4 linked regions of the Homo sapiens genome follow. The protein of the gene in region 2 interacts with the protein of the main gene of each other region in a pairwise test. Each region holds a gene or a part of one and is shown on either strand. Other genes may lie near its edges. The genes, in order: AGPS, PEX7, ACOX2 and PHYH.

Evidence for each region.
Region 1: the proteins of PEX7 (region 2) and AGPS come close enough for resonance energy transfer, tested with the Homo sapiens proteins (one large-scale study listed by BioGRID).
Region 3: the proteins of PEX7 (region 2) and ACOX2 come close enough for resonance energy transfer, tested with the Homo sapiens proteins (one large-scale study listed by BioGRID).
Region 4: the proteins of PEX7 (region 2) and PHYH interact in a two-hybrid assay, tested with the Homo sapiens proteins (2 studies listed by BioGRID, with this or other methods).

Annotation. Positions count from the first base shown.
Region 1 is NC_000002.12:177,538,919-177,543,782, reverse strand, and holds part of AGPS (alkyldihydroxyacetonephosphate synthase, peroxisomal precursor), read right to left. Parts: 3' UTR 1-4,864. UniProt on the Homo sapiens protein: Catalyzes the exchange of the acyl chain in acyl-dihydroxyacetonephosphate (acyl-DHAP) for a long chain fatty alcohol, yielding the first ether linked intermediate, i.e. alkyl-dihydroxyacetonephosphate (alkyl-DHAP), in the pathway of ether lipid biosynthesis.
Region 2 is NC_000006.12:136,870,280-136,875,143, forward strand, and holds part of PEX7 (peroxisomal biogenesis factor 7), read left to right. Parts: intron 1-1,918; coding exon 1,919-1,974; intron 1,975-4,864. UniProt on the Homo sapiens protein: Receptor required for the peroxisomal import of proteins containing a C-terminal PTS2-type peroxisomal targeting signal. Specifically binds to cargo proteins containing a PTS2 peroxisomal targeting signal in the cytosol.
Region 3 is NC_000003.12:58,522,757-58,527,620, reverse strand, and holds part of ACOX2 (peroxisomal acyl-coenzyme A oxidase 2), read left to right. Parts: intron 1-964; coding exon 965-1,155; intron 1,156-3,015; coding exon 3,016-3,195; intron 3,196-4,864. UniProt on the Homo sapiens protein: Oxidizes the CoA esters of the bile acid intermediates di- and tri-hydroxycholestanoic acids. Capable of oxidizing short as well as long chain 2-methyl branched fatty acids.
Region 4 is NC_000010.11:13,292,781-13,297,644, forward strand, and holds part of PHYH (phytanoyl-CoA dioxygenase, peroxisomal isoform a precursor), read right to left. Parts: intron 2,827-4,864; coding exon 2,716-2,826; intron 1,817-2,715; coding exon 1,648-1,816; intron 1-1,647. UniProt on the Homo sapiens protein: Catalyzes the 2-hydroxylation of not only racemic phytanoyl-CoA and the isomers of 3-methylhexadecanoyl-CoA, but also a variety of other mono-branched 3-methylacyl-CoA esters (with a chain length of at least seven carbon atoms) and straight-chain acyl-CoA esters (with a chain length longer than four carbon atoms).

The sequences.
Region 1 (4,864 bases), on a different chromosome or scaffold from region 2:
GGCATTTGCTTATAGAACAATACAGTCTAAGAAAACCAGTAAGAGGAGAATCTGAACACACACTGAAAGCACGGAATACTGACTATGTGTTGAGCCCTTGTGGAAAACAGTATGGCTCAGTCGGAATTGACAAAGCTATGCTGGAATCTCTCAGGAATTTTCCTTCCCACTGCATATCCCCTTTTAGACTATAAATGTAAAGAGAAGAATTGTTTGTATGCATTAGTTACAGCAGTATAATGGCTTACATACAAGTGCTTACTCACATGTAGTTCCCAAAGGATTACTACAGTCCTGGCAGGAATATGTACTGCCTTGGAGGAAGACTCAGGATAAGATATTATTCAAGTTAAGTTGTATCAGAGCCAAAGTATTTCACAGGCTTAGCAAAAATGGACAAGAATTAATATAACCTACATATATTTCTCATAAGATTTAATCATTGTCCAGAACAGAAATATTCGTTATTCTGAAGGCACCATCACACGAAAAAGGACTGACACACAATATTAGGAATAGAAACCACCCGCACTCCCCAGCTCCACAGGTTCTGCTCCTCAGGGAGCCTGTGAGCAAACATCCAGAAAGAATGTAGTGAGTGTCTTGAGGCTCAATGCCAAACCCACCAAGCCACAACTTAGGGCTACTAGGTTGGGGCAGTAGGAATGAAAATGTAGGAAGGAAAAGCACATACAAATCCCATTGACTGATTCGATGTGTATCAGAGTACAGGTCCACCATACAATTAGTTAAATATACTAGAACAGATTATCCAAAACAACACTGTGGAAAGAATTACCAGTGTTTCCACATATAACTGCTTAATTCCTGACATGTTCTTGAAGAGGAATAGTCTTGAACTGCTGAATGACCTCTGTCTAAAGACTTACCCTCTCCCACTCATTTAAAATAATGGCTAGTTCATGGAAAAAAAAAATCCCAACAAGGCACTGTGAGCTTTTGGGGATATAGTATAAGTAGCTCAAAAAATAACTACTTATAGAAACTTGTATGCCAGTATGAGCATTTCATGTCCTTTTCTGATATGTGAACAAGATTAAAGGAAAAACATGTTTCCTAGGGTGCATATGGTGTTCAGGAAAAACACTGCCAACAAAAGGTTGTCTTAAAAACATGTATATATGTTGCTTAGAAATCCACCATGAAACAGATTTTTTTCCTTTTCTTTCTCACTCAGATTTGGAATTCAGAGTCTCTGCAAGATGTTTTTCCTTGTGGAAAAATAAATAATCTCCTTTGGAAACCAAAAAAGAAATCTTTTCATGTTCACAGAACTAAAGTTACTAAATTCTGTGATGGTTCTTTGGCTTGAGGGTTCTATATGTCAGTGGTCCTTACTCTGATTTGTTAAGGAATTAATTATGATTAGAAGAGCACAAGAGTGCTCACTCTTTGAGGATCTTCCAAGGTTCAAAAGGGAGTGCTTCAGGTTCATAGGAGTCTCAAAGCCTCCTGGGAATACAGCATTGATTTTAAAAAATGATTAGGGATTGACAAAACCTAGCTAACAATATCCTCAGCTATAAATCCAAAGAGATTTAGTCACAAGTAGGTTGCACTTGATTTTGCACTTGATTATGCTACAAGCAACAAAATTATAAAAATAAATTTTGTGTTTTCAAATCAGTGGAAATATGAACATGAAAAACTAAAACTAAAAGAAAAACTCATATGCAAATAAAAGAATAAACAGCTTCACACTCCCTTTGAAGAAAAAAAATATTAGACCCAGGTCCATTTTATTAATAATATGATCTATAATCTCTTGACATTACAAGTAGTTTTTACAGTTAAATTTCACACTGAAGACAAACACTGTTTGGCTTAGGGAGCAGAAAGCTGAGTAACTTACATCCTTTATATCAGACACTATATTTTAACAGTTTAAGAAAACCTTTTACACTTTCTGGATTTAAGCATCAATATGTAAGTTGTTTCCTTTACAGGAAACTGAAATTAGTAAGAATTAAGTGAATATACTGACAGATGGCTCATTTGGGAACATGAAGCCTAGAGCAAAGCCAAGCTTCTATAACTCATAAAGTCAAAGGTAAAACATTCTGGATTCTTCAAACCTAAATGGGCACTTGTTATTTTCCACTTTTCTTCAACCATGAGCTAAGCCCTAACTAAAATCAAAGTTGATAAAGATTAAGTGGTAAACAAAAAAATTATTAAAGCTGTCCTTAACTCCTGTCTGAGTGTTTTTTAAGATATAGATATGCTTTCCACAGCATTCCATTTTGGCTGCCTCAAGCACCAGCACATGCAGTTTGTGAATCAATCTGTAGTAACTGTGTTCTAGCATTTATACAGAATGGAAGTTCAACCAAACCCAGCCCCATATGAACAGCCAAGGGAACACACTTCAGTGTAGGACTACAGAGCTTCTCTGATAAGCTACAGTTAAGTTGTAGCTATAAAGGAATATGACAAAGGAAAGTCTGGGTGCTAACATGCAGAAAGGCATTTTCAAAAATGCAAGCTAGGACTTAGCAGTTACTAATAGACTATTCTAGTGGGGGAAAAGGTTTCCTTGCAACCATCTGTATCTGGTATACCATACACACCGATGGAAGCTCATCCTTTATTGCAATTTTGTTTTCAAAATACATCAACACAGGCAAACTAGAAGGCTCCCAACTTCATAAATAACTTTTAAGTAATAGTACTACAATATGTAAGCACTTTTAGGAAGAAAACTCCTACTTCCTTAGAAGAAATAATATAATCCTCTTTTCTTTGTGTAAAATGATGGGCACAATAAACATGTGGTTTCCACAATTCTTACTAAGCTAAAAACAGCTCAAAGTTACTTATCATAAGACTAAATTCACTTATGCACTACTAGAAATTGCACCAAACATTAAGGCAACAGTTTCTCTAAGGGTCTATAAAGCCTGTTCATATTGAGTCTTTAGTATTCAATGCCATTTCTCACTAGCGGCAAGTTACTATTCCCACTGAAACCCCAACCCAAATGTGACATTACCAAATTTAAGTAAATTATTGCAACTATGACTAATTTAAGAAAGTCAGTGTTATGCAGTACTGAAAACCAAATAGGCAACAAGTTTTTGAAATTAAAAATAAACATTAAAAATGAGTTAAGAAGTGTCATGTAAACAGTGTTCTCCTGACTTAACTTTTATGAAGCCATTTTCAGATATTATAGAAATAAGAGGCATGGTTTAAGTGCTTCTGTGCATATTCATGAACTCAGTCCTTCACAGATACCAAGTCTATACTGAGGCACCTCCCAGAAGGTATGTGAAAGTGGGGGCTGGGGGTAGGGGGAGGCTTTCTGATTTACTAAATCAGAGTGAAACAGTACTGATCAATATTCTTGTGTTTCAAAATGATTTCGGTAGAAATGATTCCACCTACAAAATGCAGTCACCATTATAAAATCAAGGTTGGGGAGTCCTGCATATACTTGGAAAAAGAAAAACAAAGACATAAATCATGAATTTCCATAAGGTTCATGTAGAATAGTGAACATAATAATTTCAGGTGTTACATTTACAGTTTCCTAATATCAAGTATGGATTTCTGAGGTTGCTGAAATTGAACTCCCTGGGAAAGAATGTTATAACAATCACATGCAAAGGAATGGATCTTCTTATTAACCTGTTTTATTTTTTAAAAATTACTCAGAAACATATACATATATATATATATATATATACACACACACACATGCATACATATATATATATATATATATATACTTCCAGTGAGACATTAGTACCTTAATTTTATATTTTGATCACCAATTAAAGAAATTACCTTCGTGAACAGATGCATTTTATAAAGCTGAGATTTTTATAATTCTAGAGGCAACTTCCTCATCAAGTGTCCAACTAGGTCAAATATCAAGGGCTTAAAGCAAAGATCTGTTGGAAATTTTATAATTAAAAATAAATGACCAATGAAGAGAGGCAGCTTCTAAAAAATAAATATTTCATTTTGTTGTTAAACTGATATTTAATTCTAATTTAATTACAGATTTATTAGTTTGAGGCCAATTTTAATAGTTAAAAATTATTTATCATTTTGAAGTCTTAAAAATATCATTTTGTCAATTTTAAATTACCATTTTTCTGGTTAAGGCTACTTCAGATATAAAAGGTATCAAACTGCCCAAAAATACTTTGGAGCTGTTGCTACATACACAGACAATGCATCCTTTTAAAGGATCGTCTGCATTTTGACTTACATTATCTGATCAAATATTAGTTTTAAAAAATTATCAAAAGTTAGGTATTGCATTAAGAAAAGAATCCATCTCAAAATGTGAATCATGAACCTTGGCAGACAGTGATTCAAAGTAATCATTTCACTTTAATATCCAGGTTTGAATGTACAAATGCTTGCTAAATGTGATTAATGTTCTCATTATTTAAGAAACAGGATATTTCAAACTTTTGATTATGGTATATGCATTAATACATTACATTTAAAAAAAATTAGGTTAAACCAGTTATTCAAAAAAGGCATTAAACCATTATTAAAAACTAAATTGAAACTTTACTTTTTATATGAAAATTTATCATGCCATTGGGATTAATTTTAAAAAATCAAAAATGATTTTTGTCATTGAAACTGCTGAGGCTTTCAAATTCAGTAGTTGAATGATGACTGTTTCTTTAGTGAAACAATTCTTGCAATTGGAGACATTAAGTCTAAGAGTTTTCCTTCTGCTCTTGCTGTAGCTGTTTCTTCTGCATTTCAGCAACAAGAATGTGAAATCAGAAACATTAGGACTCTAAGTTGAATAAAGGCATTCATTTCATGGTAAACCTGTTCTTCACTTGCAATGAAGGATGTCAGCTTTTCTTAC
Region 2 (4,864 bases):
ATATTTTTTTAACTATAGTAATTCACTTTTAGTATTATGTTCTTTATAAGTTTCTAATTAGCGAGAGTCTCTACTTTGTTGAAACAGATGTAAAGAGATGGTTAATTCTTTCTTTTTCCTAACATGATAACATACATGACTGTTCACAGATGTTTGGGATATAGAAAGTTTTCTACTCTGTGAACAGCAGAGGATGAGGTAAATTTTTAATGATGGTCTCAGTAAATTTATCTGGGTTATAAGATGACTTAGGTTGGTTTCCTGGCTTTTATATTTAGGCAGGTTCTGCTAAATGACTGTGGAAAACATCTTATTAAGTGACATCTCCCAATTTCATCCTTTTGTTTTTTTACGTTAAGGATAAAAAAGTACCTTATTGATTATTTTAATAAGGTAATTATGTTATTCCTACTATTTAAAAAATTCTAAATTTTTTTTTCTTTTTTTTTGAGATGGAGTCTTGCCCTGTCACCCAGACACGATCTCAGCTCACTGCAACCTCTGCCTTCTGGGTTCAAGCTGTTCTCCTGCCTCAGCCTACTGAGTAGCTGGGACTACAGGTGTGCACCACCATGCCCGGCTAATTTTTTTGTATTTTTAGTGGAGACAGGGTTTCACAGTGTTGGCCAGGCTGGTCTTGAACTCCTGACCTCAAGTGATCTGCCTGCCTTAGCCTTCCACAGTGCTGGGATTACAGGCTGAGTCACTGTGCCTGGCCAAAAATTCTAAATTTTTAGTTAAGTTAATATTTTAAGTTTCTCTGGCTGCAATGCAACATAGGAGACACAGTGCTCTGTTTTATTTTTTAATAAATTTGTTTAATTGGACAAGTTTTAGCAGTTGAAAAATATGCTCTATGTATATTTTAGAGTGATTATGAGAATGAAATAAGGTAATGTAGTGAAAGTACTTTGCAAACTAAGTGCTGGTCAAATGTAGTTATATATGTGTATTTAACTATTAAAGTGCGATAAGACAAACACTGAAGAAATGTAATTGCAAAGGTCAACTTATTAAGTACATTATTACTCATCTAGAAGACGTTACTTGTCTTTAAACTTGCTTTTTACCCTTGATATAATTTTCCATTAGCTGTAATATACAAATAACGTAAAAATAACTTAAGGGTGTTTTTATTTAACATTTAAATGTTTATTTTGATAACGTGATTATAGCAATCATATATTTGTAAAATTGGTAAATTATATAATTATATATTTGTACTCTTATATACTTAAATCCCTTATATTTGTAAGAATCATTTTTGTTTATTACTTTGTTTGCTTTTGCTTTTTTTGAGCCAGAGTCTCTCTCTGTCGCCGGGGCTGGAGTGCAGTGGCATGATCTCGGCTCACTGCAACCTCCACCTTCTGGGTTAAAGCAATTCACCTGCTTCAGCTTCCCCAGAAGCTGAGATTATAGGCATATGTGCCACCATGCCCATCTAACTTTTGTATTTTTAGTACAGGCGGGGTTTCACCATGTTGGCCAGGCTGGTCTCGAGCTCCTGACCTGAGGTGATCTGCCCTCCTGAGCCTCCCAAGGTGCTGGGATTACAGGTGTGAGCTGCTGCATCTGGCCTGTAAGAATCATTTTTGGATAGCCAATATGAAATTGTATTTAATTTTTCCAGAATAGCAACATTTTGGGAATATTTTATTCTAAATAAGTTCTAAAAAGCTTGAGGGATAATTTTCTTTGGAGAATGTAAAAATATTTTTCCTGAAGATGGATACTTATAAGGCCAGAAGATTTTTGCCTCAAATTATAGCATATATGCTTTGAAAAAGCATAATTTTAAGTGACAGCTCTGACTCAACTTAAATTTATTATAATGTTTATGGAATGATCATAGAAAGCAGTGTTATAATCACAGCTGACTTCAAAAAGGGTTTTTTTTTTCTTTTTTTTTTTGTAGTTTTCACCATTTCATGCTTCTGTGCTGGCCTCTTGCTCGTATGATTTTACTGTAAGGTACAGTGGTTTTTAATACATTTCATTGTGAAATACCAGGTAACATTTGCATCTTTGCAACTTTTATAAGAGATAATATGATTACTCTTACTAACATGAAAATAATCTGAGATGGGTACATTTAAATATTTACTAGGATTAATATTATATTTTTCCTGTTTTCGTGATCCAGTCACATATATGAGTAAATTTTTTCTCTTCAAATATTAGCCTGGCTATTCTGTTTAAAAGCCATCTTTTCTAATAGATGTTCCTATGGTAACACTTTCCTACACTATAGATGGCATAGCCAATATATTCTAAATTTAGATATAGAAATTTGGAAATTGCATTTCTTCAGGTCTAATTATATGAGTCGTAAGGCTAAGATTGCTTAGATGAAAAAACAATGAACATGAGTGTATGATTTTTTGTGAATGTAGATATATGAACATGTATGTGTATATATGTGCATGGATATCTAGATAAGAGTGTGTGTGGGTGTGGGTCTCTATTTATACTTCCAGTTACAGTTCCATACCACAGAGGATTTATTTTCCCTTTCCAAATTTGTAACTCTTGACTTCCATTTTATTCACAATATATTTTCTTATGTGTTAAACCCTGTAATGCTTAGAAAGTAGTTCAGAATTGCAAAGCCATACCTTTGAAAAAAACAATCTTACTAATTAGAGCTCAGCACTTGCTTAGAGTTTTTTTTGTCTTTAGTTTGAATACTATATTCAGAAGTTACTTAGGTTAATTCTCCTCTTCTCTGTTAGAGTGTGGTTATGTTATTCACTTGAAACATGGTTTGATTCCTTTGTTTCTGTTTGTATTCAATTTTAGGGTTTTCCTCCCATCCTTGTTGATTTTGTCTAGGCAAAACATTGACATGGTTTCAAAAGTCAAGATGTACATAAAGATATATTCAGAAAGGTTTCCAGGATTTTCACTAAAATATATCCTGGAAATCATTCTGTATCAAAGAGATCATTCTCATTCTGCATAATACACCATTGTGTGGATGTGCTATAGTTTATTTGGCTACCCTCCTATCTATGGACATTTAGCTTGTTTTCAATGTTTTGTAAATAAACAGTGCCACAGTGAATGATAGCTTTGTGTTACTAGAGAATTAATGTCTGGTATTCCTAGAAGTGGGATTGCTGAGTTAAAAGGTAAACATATGTAGTTTTGTTAGATATTACCAAATTCCCATCCATAAGGAATATGCCAATTTTGATACTCAGTAGCAATGTTTGAGAGTACCTGTTTCTCTGCCTTCTAAAGATCATTGATTCATTAAGGTTTTCCAGATGTATGATCTTATCACCTGCAAATAAAGGTGGTTCTACACCTTCATTTCCAATTCTGATGCCTCTAATTGATTTTTCTTAAAATTCCCTCCACAAATACCACTAATACAGTGCTAAATAGTTTATAGAGAATGTCTGATTCCTGATATGAGTACAAACGCCTTTAGTGTTTCTCTATTAAAAATAAGATTCTGACTTTAATGCAAATTATATATGTTTACTTGTTTGTCATACTAAGAAAGTATGCATGAATTCCTATTTTCTTGAGTTTTTTTAATTAGGAATGGGTCTTAAGTTTTGTTGAAGGCTTTTTTTCCCAGCATTTATGGAGATAATCATGATTTTTCTTCTTAGAGATATGGCTATGATGTATTATATTAATGGATTGAACCAACCTTGCATTCCTGGAGTAAGTCTCTCACGTTCTTTGTGTATCATTTTCTCACCATGGTGTTGAATTGTGTTTGCTAATATTTTATTTAAAGCTTTTGCGTCAATATTCAAAGGTGATATTAGTTGCAGTTTTCTTTCTTTTCTCGTTTTGTTTAATGTGTCTGTGTTTTACTTGCTTCATAAAAAGAATTAAGAAATTTTCCTTTGTTTCCAAAGCTCTGGAACAACTTGTACAGCATTGAGGCTATTTGGTCTTTGAATCCTTTGTAGGATTGCTCTGCAAAACTAGTGGAGCATGGTGCTTTTTGTGGAGTACTTTCTTGATAACTTCATTTCTTTCATGGAAGTGAGTCTGTTTAAACTTTGTATCTCTAACGGGATCAAGTTTGGAAATTGTCCCTTGCTTTTAGGTTTTCAAATTTATTCGTAGAGGTGTCTGTAAAGTGGGTGGACACAGTGGCTCATGCCTGTATTCCCAGCACTTTGGGAGGCCAAGGTGGGCAGATCACCTGAGGTTAAGGGTTCAAGACCAGCCTGGCCAACATGGTGAAACCCTGTCTCTACTAAAAATAGAAAAATTAGCCACGCATGATGGCAGGTGCCTGTAATCCCAGCTACTTGGGAGGCTGAGGTGGAATTGCTTGAACCCAGAAGGCAGAGATTGCAGTGAGCTAAAATCATACCACTGCACTCCAGCCTGGGTGACAGAGTGAGACTTTGCCTCAAAAAAAAAAAAAAAAAAAAGTCTATAAAGGAATGTTGTAGGATTTCTTCTCTTTCATTGGTTGTTTTACTCTTGTTATTTCTGATTTTGTATCTTTAATAAGTTCTTTGAATATCTAGTGGTATGTTTATTTTGTTATTTTTCTTCAGCAGGCAGAATTTTAATTTATCAATTAGAACTACTTTTTTCAGCTGGGTGCAGTAGCTCATGCGTGTAATCCCAGCACTTTGGGAGGCTGAGGCGGGTGGATCACCTGAGGTCAGGAGTTCAAGACCAGCCTGACCAACATGGTGAAACCCCGTCTCTACTAAAAATACAAAATTAGCTGGGCGTGGTGGCACATGCCTGTAATCCCTGCTACTGGGGAGGCTGAGGCAGGAGAATTGCTTGAACCCAGGTGGCAGAAGTTGCAGTGAGCCGAGATCGTGCCATTGCACTCCAGCCTGGGCAACAAGAGCAAAACTCTGTCTCAAAA
Region 3 (4,864 bases), on a different chromosome or scaffold from region 2:
CAGGTGAGGGCCTGCTTCCTGAACGGCTTTTTGCTGTGTCCTCAAATGGTAGAAGCAGCCTCTTTCTTTCTTTTTTTTTTTTTTCCTGAGACAGTCTCACTCTGTCACCCAGGCTGGAGTGCAGTGGTACAATCTTGGCTCACTGCAACCTCCGCCTCCCAGGTTCAAGAGATTCTCCTGCCTCAGCCTCCTGTGTAGCTGGGACTACAAGTGCACGCCACCACGCCCAGCTAATTTTTGTATTTTTAGTAGAGACGGGGTTTCACTATGTTGGCCAGGATGGCCTCGATCTCCTGACCTCGTGATCCACCTGCCTTGGCCTCCCAAAGTGCTGGGATTGCAGGTGTGAGCCACCACACCCAGCCAGAAGCAGCCTCTTTCATGAGGGCACTGATCCCATTCATGAGGCCTCCACCCTCATGACTTAATTACCTCCTGAAGGCCCCAACTCCTACTACCATCATAATACCTCCTAATCCTAGTCCTAATCATCAATACCTCCTAATCCTAGCCCTAACCCTTGAGGGTTAGGATTTCTACATAAGAATTTTAGGTGGACACATTCAGACCCTGTCACCCTCCTACAACCCAGTAAGTGGGCTTACAGTGGACACCCATCCTCATAAGCTAGCTTTCTAAAACCCAGGCCAGCAAAATCCGTAACTCCTGGAGGTTTGTGGGCCCAATCCAGGCAGCACCCTCTTCCCAATCCTGGAGACACTGGCCAGGCCAGGTTTTCCTTCACTCTTATGCCCCTACAGCTACATTGCCTAATTGTGTGCCTCTGGGTGAGTCACATAAGCTGAGTACCCGCCTTCTCATTCATAAAGTTGTGAGCAGAGGAAACACTTCTTACCTCAGAGCTGAGCTGGGCATGAGTAGATGCTCAGTAAGTGGTGCACAGGGTTGGTCCCTATGGTGGAGGCCCCCTAACACCGCCCAACCCCCCTCCATGTTCTCACAGCTCCACGCACTGAGCACGGGCATGAAGGCCATGATGTCAGAATTCTGCACCCAGGGAGCTGAGATGTGCCGCAGGGCCTGTGGCGGACATGGCTACTCAAAGCTGAGTGGCCTGCCATCACTGGTCACCAAATTGTCGGCCTCCTGTACCTACGAGGGTGAGAACACAGTGCTCTACCTGCAGGTGGCCAGGTAAGGTCCAGGCTGACCCAGGCCTTTGCCCAAGCCCTTGGGGACCCACCAAGCTTCTGTTGGGTGGAGGGTTCCGTCTGAGGCCCATAAAAAGAGCAGGCTTTGCGAAGTGCTATTTGGGAGCTGTCCAATTCCCCAGTATGACTAACCTATCCACTTCTAGGCCACCATCCTCTCTCACCTCCACCACAGCCTCAGACCCCTCCCTGGTCTCTTGCTTCTATCCTGTCCTGCTTCTCCACAGGCAGCCGGAGGGATCTGTTCAGAGCCTAGGGAGGATCACATCTTTCTCTGGTTTGAAATTCTTCAACGGCTTCCCAGTGCTCATAGGAAAATGACATATTCTATGCTGTGGCCTGCAAGGTCCATGTGACCTGACCCCTGCCTCCCCGTCCATCCTGCTCTCACCACCTCCTGCCTCTGCTCACTTCTTCTTCTTCTTTTTTTTTTTGAGATGGAGTCTCACTGTCACCCAGGCTGGAGTGCAGTGGTGCAATCTCGGCTCACTGCAACCTCTGCCCGCCGGGTTCAAGCAATTCTCCTGCCTTAGCCTCCGCAGTAGCTGGGATTACACACCACCATGCCCATCTAATTTTTGTATTTTTAGTAGAGATGGGGTTTCACCATGTTGGCCAGGCTGCTCTCCAACTCCTGACCTCAGGTGATCCACCTGCCTTAGCCTCCCAAAGTGCTGGGATTACAGGCACAAGCCACCGCACCCAGCCACCTCTGCTCACTTCTGCCGGCCACACACTTCTTTCTGTCCAGGAGGCCTTTGCATTTGATCCCCTCCCACCCAACATGGCCTTGTTTCCTTTGGAGCAGTTTCACAATCTATCATTGTCTCATTTTTTTGTTCACCTTTTTAGCTCTACTCTCCAACTAGATTAGGAGCTCCCTGAGGGCAGGGACTACCCCTACCTTGCTCGCTTTAGCATCGCCTAAGCTTGGTGCAGAGCCTGCACACAGAGGCTCCAAGCAATGGCCAAGTCAGCTTCCTCCACACAGGCGATTTCTTTTCATCCCTCTTAGGTCTGTGGGCCCTGGAGGCCGACAGAGCCTCATCCTCACCTATTCTCAGGTGAACAAACAGGGCAAATGCTTCCCTATGCAAGGAGAAAGAAGTTCACTGGCAAATATGAAAAACAACATTTATTATATTTTTAAAAATATATAACATCCCTTGGTTTTTTTCCAAATTAGAAAAGGAGTACAATAGCACATATTATGTACTCTGCACTGTGCCAAGCACTCTACAAATATCATCTCATTCCATTTCACAAACCCTCAATCAGATGAGAACTGTCCTCCCCACCTAGAGCTAGAGAAACAGAGACTTGGGAGGTGAAGCTTCTTTCATCACACAGGTCTCGGCGAGGCTGTATGGGAATCCAGGGCTGTCTAAGCCCAGAACCTGTAACCACTGGATTATCCTAAAGCAGCAGTTGAGAGTCACCTATAATCCTCCTACTCCTGTTAGCATTCTTGCCTCTATCCTTCTTTTTTCAGCTAAGAAAATTTAATTTCCACCCAGTCACTGTACAAGTCATTATAAATCCCAAAATCACAGTGTTCTGATGGAAAATTCTGTTTGCTCAGATCACAGAAGGGTTTATGTTCAGGATCAGAGAGTGTCTGGCCCAGCTCCACAGGTCCTGGGATATGCCTGACTGAGGGCCTCGAGGCAGGACGGCCCGAGGGGGAACCCTCAGGAGGGAGGCCAGGCAGAGGCCTGGTGACCTGGCTCTCCCACGGGAAGGCTGGAACCTAGCATGAGCTTGCCTGTCTCTGGGAGTGAGGGGTGCTGGGCTGTCTCACAGAGTCTCTGCCCTCTCACCTGCCTCCTCTTCCAACCCCCAGGTTCCTGGTGAAGAGCTACCTGCAGACTCAGATGTCCCCTGGCTCCACGCCACAGAGATCTCTCTCTCCATCTGTCGCATATCTCACCGCACCTGACCTGGCCAGGTGTCCAGCCCAGAGGGCAGCCGACTTCCTCTGCCCGGAGCTCTACACCACGGCCTGGGCACATGTGGCAGTAAGGTAAGCCAGTGCTGAGAAATCAGCCATCCCACCTGGGCACAGGCTCCATGCCACACTAGGGCCTTTGGATTGGTTGGGTGGACATTCGTGGATTCAGTTCTAAAAACCACCCCATGCCTAGCCTCCCCGGTCCTCTCAGTTCCTGCCACCATGGGCAGAGAGAGGGGATGTCCCCCCCATCAGCCATGGACCCCCGTCACTTCCCCATCCTGGTCACAGTAGTAGAAGGACATCACACCTCTGGCCAGTGAGATATTTTTAAAATCTCTAGGGTCCTATGGTGATTTGCAATACAACGAATGTACCCATATGTAAATACTCCAAATGTATTGATATGCAAATACCAATAAATAAAGCAATACTCACTCGTACGTTTGAAATATCCCATAATCTAAAAATAATTTTTGAAAATATGACTACACCACGGGATAGAATTCATTTATTTCCAGGGTCTAGTAGGCTCCAGGGAACATGGACAAAACCAAGGACTCATCCATTCTGTCATTCAACAAATATTGTTCAGTACCTACTATGTGTTAGGAATGAACAAATGTGCCAGGGGCTGGGAATAGAGAGGTCCTGACCAAACACACATACCACCATGGAAAAGATGGAGGTTTAACTACCTAAAAAGAAAACGTTCTGAATGCTGCCCCCAAATTAAAACACCGAAAACAGGCTGGGCATGGTGGCTGACACCAGTAATTCCAGCACTTTGGGAGGTCGAGGTGGGCGGATTGCTTGAGCTCAGGAGTTTGAGACCAGCTTCGGCAACATGGTGAAACCCCACCTCTACCAAAAATACAAAAAATTTTAATAAAAAAATAAAAAGGAAACACCAAAAACAAACTGGAAAAACATATTTTCAGTATATAATAAGAGGTCTTATATCCCAACCTGTGGTCCCAGGGATGGTTAATAGTTATTTCAAGATCACAAGCAACTTGGAACATTCATTTATTTATTCCAAAAATATTTATTAACTGCCTATAATATGGCAGGCACTGTTCTAGGCATTAGGGACCTATCAGTAAATAGGCCTGATAAACACCCCAAACTCATAGAGCTAACATTTCAATTGGGAGATTTGAGGAGGGGAAGATAAGGCTGCTCGAGGTGATTAAAGTGTCATGGTATTTCTCCTTGCTTGAAACTCAGTGTGACATCTGCTTATCTATTCCCTGACAAAGCAAAAAACATATTGCTTAATAAACAGTTTGCTTTACACACAAATTCTAAGGGTCATGGATGGATGGGCAGGGAATAGAAAATAAGAGGGGATTAAAGGTTATTTAATGACTAATTTAGTGGTTTGCAGGACAAAGGTTGGTTTTCTCTTTTTGTTTTTAGGTCCCTTGGGTAGAACCTGCAGCAGGCTAGGTGACCGACGGGCCTCTCTAGCCTTTACAGAAAAACCATTCTCCTTGCTCAGGCCACAGGACGTCAGTCAACAAAAAGGCCTGAACATACTGGTGTGAGGCTGGAATCTGCATTAGAAATAGGGGACAGCTCCTGGCCTGTGGCCCTGAGGCTTTATAACATGGCGATTAACAACAAGTCAAAATCCTGGCTCCACTCCTTACTAGCTGTGTGACCCTGGACAAATTGGTTAACCTCTCTGGGACTCAGTTTTCCCCATTGCAAACTGGGGGGTGCCTGCCCTTAAAAG
Region 4 (4,864 bases), on a different chromosome or scaffold from region 2:
AAATTCGCCGGGCATGGTGGCACACGTCGGTAATCCCAGCTACTTGGGAAGCTGAGGCAGGAGAATCACTTGAACCCAGGAGGCAGAGGTTGCAGTGAGCTGAGATCATACCACTGCAGTCCAGCCTGGGCAACAAGAGTGAGACTCTGTCTCAAAAAAAAAAAAAAAAAAGAAGAAGAAGAAGAAAATAAAACAACCCATGATATTCAAATTTTGATTCTGCAAAAAAAAGACTCCAAAAAATAAGCCACCTTCTACTGCTTCCTCACTTTTTGATCTCTTGTGTATAAGGAATATTGGCAATTTGAGTATGAAACCCTGGAAAGGTTATTAAAAGCCTAGCAGTCAGGCACACACTTGCTTTTTATAAAGCCTGGTATTTTTTTGTATTCATCTAGGCTGGGATTTTCTAAATGCCAGCCATTCAAGAGCCATCCTCACAACTTCTGACATAACTTGTACTGTTATTTAGCCAATGATTTCCCTACCCTTAGTTAGCTCACTTGTTTTTTGTTTTTTGTTTTTGTTTTTGTTTTTTTTGAGATGGAGTCTCGCTCTGTTGCCCAGGCTAGGTGCAATGACATGATCTCGGCTCACTGCAACCTCTGCCTCCCGGGTTTAAGCGATTCTCCTGCCTCAGCCTACTGAGTAGTTGGGATTACAGGCGCCCGCCACCATGCCCAGCTAATTTTTGTATTTTTAGTAGAGACTGGGTTTCACCATGTGTCTCAGGCTGGTCTCAAACTTCTGACCTCGTGATCTGCCCACCTCGGCCTCCCAAAGTGCTGGGATTACAGGCATGAGCCACCGCGCCCGGCAGTTAGCTCACTTCTCTTATTCAATCTTTGTTTTTTTCTTTTTTTCCAATATAGACAATGGTCTCACTATGTTGCCAGACTGGTCTTGAACACCTGGCCTCAAGTGATTCTCCTGTTTCAGCCTTCCAAAGTGCCACTTCGCCTGGCCTTTTTATTTAATCTTGTCCTAATTAACAACATTTTTGAAATCATGAGTTTGGTAGACTGTTGAGTTTTTTTCCAATACATTTAAAAATAAATATCTATTAAAATAATTTATACCTCCTAAAATCATGGCATAGACCACCAGATACTGGTCCCATTCTTCAGAAATGTAGGACACTGGCCAGGCGCAGTGACTCATGCCTGTAATCCCAGCACTTTGGGAGGCCGAGGTGGGTGGATCACGAGGTCAGAAGTTCGAGACCAGCCTGAGCAATATGGTGAAACCCTTTCTCTACTAAAAATACAAAAATTAGCCAGGTGTGGTGGCAGGCACCTGTAAACCTAGCTACTTGGGAGGCTGGGGCAGGATAATCACTTGAACCTGGGAGGAAGAGGTTGCAGTGAGCCGAGATCGCACCACTGCACTCCAGCGTGGGCAACAGAGCGAGACTCTGTCTCCAGAAAAGAAAACAAAATAAAACCCACTGATTTTACTCAATTCAACTCCTTTCCATATCCAGCTCTAAGAGCAGTGGTTCCTGGGATCAAGCGATCCACCTGCCTCAGCCTCCCACAGTGCTCGGATTACAGGAGTGAGCCACTGCGCCCGGCCAAATCAGCGGGTTTTACAGGCAGACATACACACTGGCAATTAAGCCGACGCAAAGCAAGGGTGGTCTCTGACCTCGGGGAGAGTGCAGTATCTGAAGAGCTCCTTATCTTCCTGGAAATCCTGGACCTTCGTGATCATCTTCTCACTTGGAGCATATTCGGATTTCGAAATGGTCACATCTCTCATTACTGTTAATCCTAATGGTTTCACCTCCTTTCTGCAGATTTTTTCAAACTCATTCCTAGAAAATTTAATTTGCAAATGATGTCGTTACCGCTGGCTCCAAGCACCTGCCCTGCCCTCCTCTGTGGAAAGGGTTGCAGACTTGAGGGGTGGTTTCTCTGCACTAAGTTGGCCTCCAGCTTGAGGTAGAATAATTCCAATGAAAGGGAGGAGAAACTGTCTGGCTAGAATCCATTCCCAGAATTAAATTATTCCCTAGTTTAGCATACCAGTAGGGAAGTCTTTTTATAATTTGGTTACATTGTAATAATAATAACAGCAAACATTTCTGTAACACTTACCATGTGCCCAGCTCTCTTCAAAGTGGTTTCCATATATTTCACCGTATTTAGTCCTAATAACAACACTAGGACATAAGTGCTATTATTATCCCCATTTTACAGATGAGGAAACAGAGGCATGGGATGTGAAGTAAATTGCCCCAGGACACATGATATTAAGTGGTGGAGCTGAGACTGAAGCCCAGGCATGGTGGCTCCCGACTGTAATCCCAGCAACTCAGGAGGGTGAGGCCAGGAGTTCAAGACCAGCCTGGGCAACATAGTGAGACTCCCTGTCTCTAAAAACAAAGAAATAAAAAATTAGCTGGGTATGGTGGTGCACAACTGTGGTCCCAGCTACTCAGGAGGCTGAGGCAAGAGGATTGCTTGAGCCCAGGAACTTGAGGCCGCAGTAAGCTATGATCGCACCACTGCACTCAGCCTACACAACAGAGTGAGAACCTTTCTCTATAAAAAATAAAAAGCCAGTCTGGCACCAGAGCCCATGCTTCTAAACACTTCCCAACAAACCAAATCATTAAAAAACATCTGTAAAGCCAGGAGCGAATCCACCTTGTATTCTCATTACATGCACACAATACATACTATTGTAAAATAACAAATAGTGTTACTGTACCGAAAGCGTTGAATATCGGCATCAGGTACAAGATTTTTGATTACTAGAAACCCATTTTCTTCATAAAATTTTCTCTGTTCCAGGGTTAGAACGTTATTATCCAGAGTATACCTAAAGGAGAAAAAGAATCCCAAAATAAGTTACATTTTTAAATTACAGGCTAGGCACAATGGCTCACACCTCTAATACTAGCACTTTAGCGGGCCGAGGCAAGTGGATCACTTGAGGTCAGGAGTTTGAGACTAGCCCAGGCAACATGATGAAACCCTGTCTCTACAAAAAATACTGGTTGTGCCACTCCACTCCAGCATGGGCGACAGAGTGAGACCCTGTCTCAAAAAAAAAAAAAAAATTTAAATTACATCCTAAAAATATGTATCAAGAACCTGAGGCTAGGCGTGGGGGCTCATGCCTATAATCCCAGCACTTTGGGAGGCCGAGGCAGGTGGATCGCCTGAGGTCAGGAGTCTGAGACGAACCTGACCAACATGGTGAAACCCCATGTTTACTGAAAACACAAAGTTTAGCCAGGCATGGTAGTGGGCACCTGTAATCCCAGCTACCCGGGAGGTTGAGGCAGGAAAATCGCTTGAACTTGGGAGGCGGAGGTTGCAGTGAGCTCTGATCATGGCACTGCACTCCAGCCTGGGCGACAGAGCCAGACTCCGTCTCAAAAAACAAAAACAAAGACAAAAACAAGAACCTAGGAAACGTTCATGCTCTTCAATTCAGCATTTCTAAGACCAAGGAAATAATCTGAAAACTTACGCTTTATGTCACCAAAACAAGTGCATTAGTGGGCCGGGCACAGTGGCTCATGCCTGTAATCCCAGCTTTTTGGGAGGCTGAGGCAGGTGGATCACCTGAGGTCGGGAGTTCGAGACCAGCCTGACTCACATGATGAAACCCCATCTCTACTAAAAATACAAAAATTAGCGTGCCTGTAATCCCAGCTACTCAAGAGGATGAGGCAGGAGAATCGCTAGAACCTGTGGGGGTGGAGATTGCAGTGAGCCAGGATTGCACCAGTGCACTCCAGCCTGGGTGACAGAGCAAGGCTCCATCTCAGAAAAAAAAAAAAAAAAAAAAGTGCATTAGTGGAAGAAAAATTAACTAGTGACACTATGTTCACTCAGTGGAATATGACTCAGACATTAAAAATTAAGGCCATATAATAGTATGGATGGCGGGCACAGTGGCTCATGCCTGTAATCCTAGCTTTGGGAGGCTGAGGTGGGCGGATCACGAGGTCAGATCGGGACCATCCTGGCTAACACGGTGAAACCCGCCTCTACTAAAAATGCAAAAAATTAGCCCGGCATGGTGTCTGGCGCCTGTAGTCCAGCTACTGGAGAGGCTGAGGCAGGAGAATGGCGTGAACCCGGGAGGCGGAGCTTGCAGTGAAGCAAGATGGCACCACTGCACTCCAGCCTGGGCGACAGAGCCAGACTCGGTCTCAAAATAAAATAAAATATAATAAAATATAATAAAATAAAAAATAGTATGGACAATGCTTATTATAATAAAATATTATTACAATTATGTAAAACCAAGACACTATATGAAAAAAAGAAAAGCCTGCAAAGAAATACACCAAAGCAATTTTTAACAGTGATTGCCTTTAGAAATGGAATTAGGGATGATTTTTTAAAATTCCTTCTATTTCTCTGATGTTTCTGTAATGAATACATATGATTTTTCAGATGGGAAACAAATTCAATAAATTGTATATTTTTAACTGTCCAGTTGATGCATTCCAAGAAGGTAAAGTAACAAAATCCAAATAAATGTACAGCATACCCATAAACTCAAATCACCCAACCTATTCCTTAAGATCGGAATTGTGGTTGTATGAGAATATTTAGGAAGGTCAAGATCTTCCCCTTTAAAGGTGATTTAAGATAAACCAAAGATGCTAGCTAATATGTCCATATAACCAAATACAAGCTAATTTGTTTTGTTTTGTTTTGTTTTTTGAGATGGAGTCTGGCTCTATCACCCAGGCTGGAGTTCAGTGGCGTGATCTCAGCTCACTGCAACCTTGACTTCCAAGGTTCAAGCGATTCTCCCACTTCAGCCTCCTGAGTAGCTGGGATTATAGGTGCACACCACCATGCCCAGCTAATTTTTGTATTTTTTCATTTTGTAG